Linked DNA regions of Homo sapiens. The protein of the gene in region 3 binds, or shares a complex with, the protein of the main gene of each other region. Each region holds a gene or a part of one and is shown on either strand. Other genes may lie near its edges.

Region 1 (3,752 bases), on a different chromosome or scaffold from region 3:
AATCTATCAATATATTCTAAATATAACTTAAAAAGTGAAACTATAAAAAGGTAAAGTTTAGTCAAACTTTTGCCCCATCTATTTTCATTCTGTAATTTATATGGAGCAACATAGACTACTCCATTATTGTAGAAAGGGGTCGATACAAAGCCATTTAAAAATCCACCCTCATCTATGTTACCAAAGACAGCAGCCGTTATTTTAATAAAACACTCATACAAATAATTGTTAAACAGCCAAAGAACACTTCAGGAATCTCACTTTTCAACTCTGTTTAAACCATACATATAAAACTCTTCATTCAGCTTAACATTTCACTGTGGTTACCTGAAATCATTTCCTCCCTTTAGGGACACCACTATAACCACTATAACAGGGTCAGCGCCAAGTTTTCTCTCTTCTTGTTCTCATACCTAACTCCTATCTGAAAACCAAACCCTGTGAGAGAGACAGAAAAAAAAATGTCCAGAAATTCTCTCCAAAATTTTTTTCACATAAAAGGTCATTAAGGCCCTCTTCTCAAGAGGATTTCCTAATTCTGTTACCAGAGTTTTTGGTGATTGGTTCCTATATGGACCCAAACTATAGTTCAAGCTGTATATGCATAATGAACAATCTGCCTTAAAAAAGTGGATTTACATTTTTTATTTTTAAAAAAGCATTGTCAGTGAAAACCTGCTAATAGTTTTTAAATAAACCTAAACAATGTCTGACTCTGAAAGCAATAACCAAACACCTGACTCTTATTACTGGACCTAAAATGACCTGTAACTGAGTCAAGAAGGGCCAGAGTATATTTTACCTTCAAAAGGTGACAAATGCTTATAACCAGCCAGGCGATGGACATTTTAAGATGTAATCCTCAAAAGAAAAACTCTATCCACTCTCAGTTGAGAGTCAAAGTACACCAGAAATTTAAAACTTTGTGTGAAAAATTATTTATAGGAATCCCAACAAAATACTTAACCAAAAAGTTAAGCAGAACTATTGGCTAGGTATTGCTTGCTTAATTTTCCATAAAATTTGAAGCTGTGATCTAAAAGTCTTATCTTCACGTTTTTACCAATAATACTTAATAGTCATTAAATGATATCCTGAAGTTTTCTTTCCATTCATTTTAACTGAGTTCCAGAAAAATCAACTACATTAAAATAATTAAAGAAGAAAGATAGAAAAAAATTGGTTGTTACAAAGAACATTCAACGTTGGGATTATTAAATCCTGGCTAATGAGAAGTAGAACCGGTTTTAGACTTTTGCTTTCATTTGAATTCTTAAGGTTTAACTAGATACTTTATGGATATTATGAACCTGCACAAAAGAATGGGCAGTACAAATATGAGGTTCATGTGGACTATGGCACTCTGTAGGTAATGACCAACTAAACATAATTAGTTTTTTATAATACATACATTTAGAAATGGTATCAAGCCATTGTTTCAAAAACACTGAAGCACAAATTGCCCAGACCTAACAAAAGCGGCAATGTCAGGTAAAGATTCAAACAAACATGGAGCAAAAACACAGTACTCTTCTGTACGCTGTCACACTAACAAAAAACAAAAAACAAACAAAAAAAAAGAAAGTAAAAGAAAAGAAATAAAACACACATTTTGGATGACAGTAAAATTAGATGTCATGGACTTCACTCTCCAAAAGAGCAAAATCATTTGTCCAACTATCTCAACAAAAGATATTCAAAAATTAATGGTTAGTGAGTTTATTTAAACTGGAAAAATGTAGCTGGCCACAAATTATACTATGAGCCCACGTATGTAGACTCCACACTTGCATTAGTTTCTGAACAGGTGTCTACTCCAAACCAACCACAGCTTTTTGAAAGCAAGAAGCATCAAAAGTCTTCATTATAGGATTTCAGGTATTTTCCCAAGAGGCACAAGGACCTTCATGCTCATAGCCTAGAACCTTCCTTCTCTCAAAATGGCTAGTTTTTCCAGTTTAAAAACAAACAAACAAAAACCCCCACAAAACCTGCAAACTTAAAAAATTATAGATGCATAGTGAAAACCAAGAGGGATGACACAGCAGTGATGACACTTTTGTGCTGACATGCATTAGACACCTGTCATAATGGAAAATAAAAATTACATGACATTTCCCTGGGTTATTATTGGTGCTATTTCAAAACTACCAGCTTTGATAACAGAAAGAAAACAGTTGGGTTCTGCCAGGCTTCAAGTTAAGTCACTTTCATAGAACAGAAACATGACCATGATCCAGAAGGTCCAAAAGTCTCTAATCATAATTAAATATCAAGGGCCTTAGCTGAAGTCTTCAGCACTTAAATCAAGGGAGAAAAATATACTTACTAATGACCTGACAAATTAGGGGTGGGACAGAGGGGATAGATTAAAAAAAAAAAATCCATTACTGTTAAGCAGCAAAAGTCCTTGTTGAGAACCAGAGGTTGATATCATCTCACCTTTGAAAAAAAAAAAACTGTGAGGCTAAGTTAAATGATCCTGTATTAATTCCGGGTGTCTGGGAAAATAAAACAATTAAAAAAGGTTTTCCTACACTGACATTTCAATTCCGTAGCTGGACAGCAGTGAGAATATTGAACATAAAATTTCCAAGATGTTCAAAACATTTTCAATAATGTAATGTCACTACTGTTTAAATATGAAAATAAAAAGACAAGCAAAATTTTAAAAGAGCATGTCAAAGGCATTTTATGATGACTTTTTAAGAAATTCTGCAATCCAAATATGGCTGATTTAAATGCCCACTGAAATAAAAGATGACTATGAGCCTGCAGACAACTCTTCTTTCTATTATTGAAACCAGAAATTTGAATTGATACAAAAACAAAAACTCATCTTTGATGAAGAACACTTAGTTTCGAAATATGCACGATTAGAACTGTACCTGCTACACCTCTCTGAAAAAGTCAGTAAAAACACCACCACACACCAATAACTGACCAAAGAATTCTGATTTTAAAAGCACCTACTCACTTCTTGCATACTAGTGTAAGCATAAGACATATATGGTTTGTAACATAGTCCTTAATTTTTACTGAACAGTTACTGCTACAAACCAAAAGTGCATATATGGGATACAGAACTCTAGAACAAATGATTTAAAAAATGCATGTTAAAGCAAACTCTCTGGGAATAAACTGTATCTTAAGAAATACTCAAATACCTGATTAAAATAATTACATTGCTATACAATTTACCAGCATATCTTTGAGATCCCTGATCAAATTTCAGTCACACACATTTCTGGTAAAAGAATTATTTACCTACACACCAATCGAGTCATTTTTAGGTGGCTATTACTCTCTTTATATGGTCAGTGGACTCCTTTCTCCAAATTCTGACTTTTCAAAATTTTGGTTTTGTAACTCTGAGGATTTTTTAAGCTCAAGATTAAAAAAAAAACAACTGAATAGAGAAAAAAAATTACTCATAAGGGTGGGAACTCCTAATTAAAGCAAATCTGTCTGCCTGCCTGCTACCTTTAGGGCATCCCTTTCACTTAAAATAATAGCTAAACAAACAAAAAAATAGCTAAACTGTCCTGATTTCTATTTTAAAGACGTTTATAAAAATATAAAAAAGAAAATGCTACAACTAACAACTAAAAAGAAAATTGCATCTGATGCTGTATCCCATTACACATCACAAAACAGGAACCATGTCAAAGTAGTAAATACAAGTTACACATGGACTTTAGGACGCACCACGGACAATGATCATGACCAGGTAATCTTCTTCAGATTTGGCC
Region 2 (3,752 bases), on a different chromosome or scaffold from region 3:
AACACCACCAGAGTATTTACTGAAGCTGCCCATTCTCCTTCATTTTCACCAAACCAACCTTCCCTTCCCGTCTACTGCAATCAGCTATTTTCCATCATTCTTACCTCCCTCTCTTACACCATTCTTCATAGAACAGCCTATTGTATTTTTTAAGAGACTGTGTTCCTCCTCCACTTCTGTTCAATGGCTTCATATTCACTTAAATTAAAATTCAAACGTTTACCACGGCTTTCAATGACCTGAATGATGTGCCTGCTGCCCTCCTTTCCAATCTCACTTCAGGACTCCTACCCTCTGGCTATTAGGAGGCTGCAGCTGACTTCACTGTATCTTCCTACCTCAGTGCCTTCGCACTTGCTGGAAATGCTCTTCCTCTTGCTTTTTTCCCAGGGCTGGGTTCTTCTCATCCATCAGATCTTAGCTTCCACAAAGACCATTCCTAACAACCCTCTCTGAAATTTCGTCCTATGAATCTCTCCACAGCACTCGTTTATTTTCTTCAAAATAATCCGCAAACATTAAAAAAATAATAAATTTAAAAAAAAAGAACGTATTGTCTGTGTTCCTCCATAAAACAGAAGTTCTATCACGGACCTGGTCCGTCTCGTTTACCATTCCATCTTCCATCTCCCGACCTATAGATATCTGCATGTATCTTGCATAAATAAACATACACACCTACATAAATAAACATACACACCTAATTATATAACCAAGTAGATATCTGATGAGTGAGGACAACTCAATACTCAAGAAAAAGCCTTTTTTTCTCTATTTGTGATACGGTCGCTATAAATGTATGGGGCACATAACTCCAAGAGCACTCATTCAATATCCAAGAACCACAAAGAAGCAAAAGCCAGAAAATACATAACAAAGGGTGGAGCCACTCTTACTTGGAGAAAAGTATGAGAATGCCTTGATTTTAAACTCCTCTTTGTAAATACCCTCAAATGATGAGTAAGGACCTCAGCCGAAGCGCGGGGCATGCTTTTGGTTTAGGTAGAAAAACTGCTCCGAGTTTGATTCCAAAAACTCTATCAGACTCCCTTCTTTCACCCCTCTAGTCCATAAAGGATCGGAGAGACGACAGGGGGTGACCACTGCAGCACCCGCCCAAAGCTGACTGAGACAGCAGGAAGTCTCCAACCCATTCTCGCCCGTCCACTCCCAGCGTAAAGAGGATTCCGCGACTCGGAGACCGCAATCTACCCGCCAGTCTCCATAACGTAGGCCAGAGCAGCTGGGCTAAATAAAACAGAGCCGGGGCTCTCCCTTCCCGAAGGCCTACATCGCCCACTGGTCCGGGCTCGGAGCTCAGCAGAACCAGAGTAGGAGCGGTTGTTGCCGGCACGGAGGAGGTAGGTACCACACCAGACGGTAGGCCAGGAAACCGCAGGCCCCTGCCGGGCACAGGAAGGCATCTGTGAGATTTCTTCTCACTGCCACACCCTAGTGTTGTGGGGCGAGCATAATCCCTTTTGCCTGCTGTGCGACCAGCCCCAGGCCGGCCAAGGGGGCTTGGAACCGGGACCCCCACTGCCTCCGCCTCCTTACCAGTGTGATCCATGATTCGGCTCGCAGAGCACAGTGGGAGCGGAAGTCAACCGCGCCGGAGTCGCAGCGAGCGCGTGCGCACTGCCTTCCGGAGGCCGGGAGGCGGAAGTCCAAGCAGGTTGTCCCAATTTTGGCCTGCAAAGACTTCCTTCTCTCGCCTCTACTATCCAACTCCTGTGAGGGACTCAGGCATAGTTCGGGCGGAGGCAGAAAGAGCGAGCGCGCGAAGAACTTCGGTATTGAGGTTGCTAAGGCTTCTCCTCATGTGCTTCAAGAGAAAGTAGCCTTTAACTGTGGAAAGGACACCAGGGGGACCGGGGAAGGGGAGAGCAGTGGTAAAAATGAGCCAGAAGCAGATAAGGCGACTGCCCGCCCCGCGGAGAGCTGCCTTCTGGGACTTGTAGTGCGCGGGGCCCCCGGAGCCGGCTGGCTGCGCAGGCTCGGCCGTTGCGCTGGCCCCACCCCGGCGGGCGGAGTAACGGTTTGGAATCCCCCGGGGTCAGCGAGCGCTTGTTTCCTCCGCCTGGTGTAGCAAAAGTGTAAACACGCGCGCTCCGGAAGGCGCCCTCCAGTGGGAGGTTGCTCAGGGGATGGCGGAGCTGTGAAACTCGGAGCTAGAAGGAAAGTCTCAACGCTTGTCTAAATTTTGCTTTGTCGTGACGAGCTACCTAGACCCACGCAGAGCTAACTTGGTATATGCCCCGGTTCCCATCTCTTAAGTCTCTTTACAGTTGAAACACGTTTATAATGCTTGACTGCCACTCACTTTCTAGGGAGAGCGCTTGTGACGCTACGAACCTCTCGAACACCTGACGACTGGGCGCCAGGGCCGGATGGAGGGTGGAGAGCCAGTGCGGCGCAGCTGCCTCCTCTTAACGGGGACACCTTGCAGGAATGTGCGGAGTGGAGCTAACGGGAGCGGATAGAAACCGAGGGAGGGGAAGAGAGCGCGAAGGCTTGGCCGGAAGGAGAGGTTAAAAAGGAAAGGCCTAAAATGAGGAAGAGAGTTACCACAACAAGCAGTACCTAGTTCCAGTTCTTGGTCCCAGGAGTTTGTGGTTGTTGCTGCTTTCATCTTCCTCAGCCAACACAAAAGGAAAGTGCCAAGGGGCGATTCCTAGGACCTTCAGTGCAGTCTCCACCTTGCGGACTTGGCTCATTTGTGTCCACTCCTTTCTCCAGCCTTTTACACTTGATGCTCTTGGATGAATAGAAAGGAGCACAATTAATGGAAAACACAAGCTTGGGAGTCAAGGGATTTGGGTTCTATTCTTGTCCTCCCTTGGTGACGACATCATTACCTTGGGTTATTCAAGCTTTCAGTGCCAGAGTTCCTATATCAATAAAAGATTATTACATTGACCTCTTAGAGAAATGTTTTCATGGTACTGAATTGCAAATAAAGTATGTGTAGCGATGTGTTATATCTTTGTAGTTGTACGGTATTATTTGTGAATCATGCTGTGATGATCAGTGCGATTTAAGTGCACCATGTTATTTGGTGATTATTTTCCTGAGATCTTGTAAAAGATTTTTCTGCTCTATATATGCAGCTTTATAAACAAGTTTTTAGGTACATTCACAACTAAGGACATTTGTGAATCAAAATTACCCCTGCTTTTTTTAAATGTAAAGTTCTGTATTGCTAGGTGGTTTTCAAGATGCTTTCAGTTTCTGGGATTATTGTTTTGGGCATTGGGGCTTGCCTAACCTTTTTCCCATACCTCCCTATTTTTCTAAATACAGTGTTGATATAGTCAGGCATTTTTCACCAATTTGGGTTTTTTTTTTTTTTTTAAGTTTTCACTTAGAAAGTACTTCTTTTTCATATTAAAAAAATTTTTTTTAGAGATGGGGCAGCCCAAACTGGAACACAATGGCAGAATCATAGCTCACTGCATCCTTGGACTCCCGGGCTCAAGGGGTCCTTATGCCTCAGCCTCCGGAGTAGTTGGGACTACAGATGCTCATCACCACCACTGGCTTTGATTTTTTTGTTCTATCATACTTAGCCTATCAGCTAACGGTTAACCTTCAGATTCATGGAAATCCAGGTTCAGAATAGTATTATTAATGTCTGCTGATGCTAATATTTAAATAATTAGAATTAAAAAGAGCTTTCAAATTGTATTTTATATAATTTAACCTGTAAGTTAGAAGTTTTGTTGGCATTTTATGGTGCATCAAGAAAATTT
Region 3 (3,752 bases):
CCATTGCACTCCAGCCTGGGCAAGAAGAGCAAAACTCTGTCTCCAAAAAAAAAAATCTTGTAACAATTTCAAACAGACTAAATATAACATTAGAAAACAAGCAGATTAGGCAGATCAATGGTGAACTGCACAGAACAATCTTAAGAAAACTGTTAAGTATAATTGTGAAAATAATGTAAGGGTATTACTCAGAAAATGTATAATTCTCAATGTAAAAAGGAAAATAAGGCTGAGCACGGTGGTTCATGCCTGTAATCCCAGCACTTTGGGAAGCCAAGGGGGGTGAATCACTTGAGGTCAGGAGTTTGAGACTAGCCTGGCAAACACGGCGAAAACCCATCTCTACTAAAAATACAAAAATTAGTTGGGCATTGTGGTGCATGCCTGTAGTCCCAAATACTTGGGAGGCTGAGGCAGGAAAATCACTTGAACCAGGGAGGCAGAGTTTGTAGTGAGCTGAGATCACACCACCGCACCCCAGCCTGGGCGACAGAGCAAGACTCTTGTCTCAAAAAAAAAAGGCCGGGGGGAATAATTAGCCAAGACTTCTAAACTCATTATTAAAAGTACAATGCATGAAAGGTTCATTGAAAAAAAGTTTCTTTCTTCTATCCAATAGAGTACTCTGCAAACAGTACCACTAGTCCAGAGGTGGCTCAACTGCAGCAACAGGAAAACTGTTTATCTGAATCTCTTCCATCTAAATCACTTTCATTCAATATTTTAACATTCCAATATTCTAACCCATTAGAAAATACATACTAATTAGTTACCTTTTGAAGCAGGTGGTGTGAAAAACCTATTCTGACTGTGGAAAGCACCCCGTCCTCCTCTATTGCCTGAAAACCCACCACGGGAAGAAATCTTCTGTGATACTTTGAGTGGCCGTTTTGGTGGAGGTATTCCATCTTGAGGAACCACTTCTTTACTTTCAGCAGCAACAAAGTCATCCACATGCATAGATGGTGGTCTACTTGTGTTCTGTTTTCTCTGACGAAAAATATCATGAGGTCGTATACCCTGTCCAAATCCTCCCCTGCCCCTTCCTCTTGGTGGTGGCACAACATGAGCTCTTTTGGCAGGTTCAATGTATTCAGATTTTCCACTATTAAAACAAAAACATGCCATAAAACATTTTTCTTTCAGGTTTCTAGCAAAAATAATCTTTATAATACCCAAAATTATATTTCAGTTTTTTTGTACTCCAATTCTGCTAACTTTGCAAGTATCTATCATACTTCTGGGATAATATAACAAACTAGCTAAGAAAAGTACTCACATTTCATTGTTATGAATAACAATGTTTTAAAATAATCCAGTTCACTTCTTATTCAAACCTTCCAAAATCTTGTAGAAAACAATATAACAAATGTACTGGGTATATCCTGGCCAAATTATTACGTTTAAATTTAAAAAATTCAAACAATGTTCATGATTCGAATGCTATGTTAATTTCCTTTCTAGTTTAATAGCATGTGTCTTTTTTTTTTTTTTTGAGAGACAGAGTCTTGCTCTGTCGCCCAGGCTGCAGCGCAGTGGCGTGATCTCGGCTCAATGCAATCTCCACCTCCCGGGTTCACACCATTCTCCTGCCTCAGCCTCCCGAGTAGCTGGGACTACAGGCACCCACCACCACGACCAGCTAATTTTTTTTTTTTTATTTTTAGTAGAGACAGGGTTTCAACATGTTAGCCAGAATGGTCTCGATCTCCTGACCTCGGCCTCCCAAAATGCTGGGATTACAGGCGTGAGCCACCGCGCTCGGCCGCATGTGTCTATCTTAAAATATACTAAAATACATAAGCTTATGTGATGACATTTGAGATCTTCAGTGGAATAAATTTTACCTTGACGTTATAAAGGTCTCATGCTTGTGCTTCCCAAGTTTGAATCCTTTAGTAGTCTTGGTTCTTCCTGGAGATGATGGTTCTGACAAAAATGAGCGCTCTAATTCTGAGTGCAAATCAAAGTCACTACAGCATTTTTCAGAGAGTTCAATTAAGTCAACCTTTACCTGCAGTCATAATAATGAAACAAAACACATATTAAATGTAATTATTAGCATAACATTTGACTACAGAAATTCTTATTACCTATAAATTATATTTGCCTCTCATAAGAAATAAATTATAGATCTACCTCTTTCATCTTTTCAAAAAGCAAATGGCATTGGTAGTTTAAAAACAAACACACACACACACCTTAGTAATGCTACTTTTTTTGTGTGTGGCATTCTTCAAAGCAGGGCTATTAATCTAGGAGAACTTTGATGCCTGAGCAGGAAACTCAGTATTTGTCTATATAAATTAACACTGTAATATCTCCTGAACTTTTCCAAAAAAAGAATCTGAAAATAACATACTCTGCCAGCCTTATATAGTCAACATTTCTATTACAAAAAGATTCTGTGCCACAGATTCCCAAAAGCTCTATGCATTTAATGAGGTTCCCATCTAAGTTTAATTTCAGGGAAATCAACATTCAGTTTACTTAGGTTTTATTCAAATTTATCAAATGTAAGATACCTAAAATTTCTCTAATCCAGAGGGTTACAATTATCATCACAAGACAGTTGTGATTCAACTTAAAGTTAAAAAATTAGTAACTTTTAACAAATATTTTATACCTGTGCTGCCCAACGTGGTAGCCACTAACAACATGTGCCTATCTAAATTAATCAAAATTAAATCAAAATAAAATTCAGTTCCCTAGTCATCCACATTTCAATTGTACAACAGGCACATGAGGCTACTGTTTTGGACAGGGCAGACTACAAAATATTTGCATTATTGCATAAAATTCTACTGGAGAGGACAGTTTTAAAGAACCACTGAACAGCTTGCACTAAAAAGAAATTAATTTTTAATGCACTTTTAATTGAATTGTATGTGGTTTTTTAAAAAAGGAAAAGCAGCCCTCAACACACTAAATACAAATGTGAAGCAAATCATTCTCTTAGTTTTATTGTATATGATGAACACCAGTATGTTTCTTTGATAAAGAAAAGGAACAATGTACTGTATAATAAGATGTGGCTAAAATAATTCGCCTTACCACATCTCTGAGAAGCATAGAACAGACTGCAATAAATTTTAAATAGTTAATTATACTCTTACCTATTCAGCATTATGTTTAAGAATGTCAATTCCCATTCATACTATACTATAACAAATACATTCTTCACAAGTTTCCAAACTGAGAGCCACACCATAGCACAACCATTCCTCTCCTTGAACCCAAATGCAAGAATAAACTGTTGTTTTATGGGATACTTTTCCCTGTTCTATACCCCGTCAAGTAAGAAAACAAAGTGCTTCATAGAACTTATGCAAAAGTGTGATTTTTCCCTTAAAAAAGTTACATTCTCTGGCCAAATGTGGTGGCTCACGCCTGTAATCCCATCGCTTTGGGAGGCCAAAGAGAGAGGATTGTTTGAGGCTAGGAGTGAGACCAGCCTGGGTAACAGAGTGAGACTTTATCTATATTAAAAAAAAATTTTTTTTTTGGCTGGGCATGGTGGCTCACGCCTGTAATCTCAGCACTCTGGGAGGCCAAGGCAGGCAGATCACAAGGTCAGGAGTTTGAGACCAGCCTGACCAACATGGTAAAACCCAGTCTCTACTAAAAATACAAAAAAATTAGCCAGGCGTGGTGGCACAGGCCTGTAATCCCAGCTACTCAGGAGGCTGAGGCAGAAGAATCACTTGAACCCGGGAAACGGAGGTTGCAGTGAGCTGAGATTGTGCCACTGC

What was found.
Region 1: VIRMA (region 3) and RBM15 share a complex: the UniProt entries of both Homo sapiens proteins name them as parts of the WMM complex.
Region 2: VIRMA (region 3) and CBLL1 share a complex: the UniProt entries of both Homo sapiens proteins name them as parts of the WMM complex.

Annotation. Positions count from the first base shown.
Region 1 is NC_000001.11:110,342,225-110,345,976, reverse strand, and holds part of RBM15 (RNA-binding protein 15), read right to left. Parts: coding exon 3,709-3,752; intron 439-3,708; coding exon 368-438; 3' UTR 328-367; intron 1-327. UniProt on the Homo sapiens protein: RNA-binding protein that acts as a key regulator of N6-methyladenosine (m6A) methylation of RNAs, thereby regulating different processes, such as hematopoietic cell homeostasis, alternative splicing of mRNAs and X chromosome inactivation mediated by Xist RNA.
Region 2 is NC_000007.14:107,741,982-107,745,733, reverse strand, and holds the start of CBLL1 (E3 ubiquitin-protein ligase Hakai), read right to left. Parts: upstream 1,593-3,752; 5' UTR 1,571-1,592; coding exon 1,558-1,570; exon of another isoform or gene 1,425-1,557; coding exon of another isoform or gene 1,292-1,424; exon of another isoform or gene 897-1,291; intron 876-896; exon of another isoform or gene 339-875; intron 1-338. UniProt on the Homo sapiens protein: E3 ubiquitin-protein ligase that mediates ubiquitination of several tyrosine-phosphorylated Src substrates, including CDH1, CTTN and DOK1. Targets CDH1 for endocytosis and degradation.
Region 3 is NC_000008.11:94,490,805-94,494,556, forward strand, and holds part of VIRMA (protein virilizer homolog), read right to left. Parts: intron 2,015-3,752; coding exon 1,848-2,014; intron 1,106-1,847; coding exon 774-1,105; intron 1-773. UniProt on the Homo sapiens protein: Associated component of the WMM complex, a complex that mediates N6-methyladenosine (m6A) methylation of RNAs, a modification that plays a role in the efficiency of mRNA splicing and RNA processing.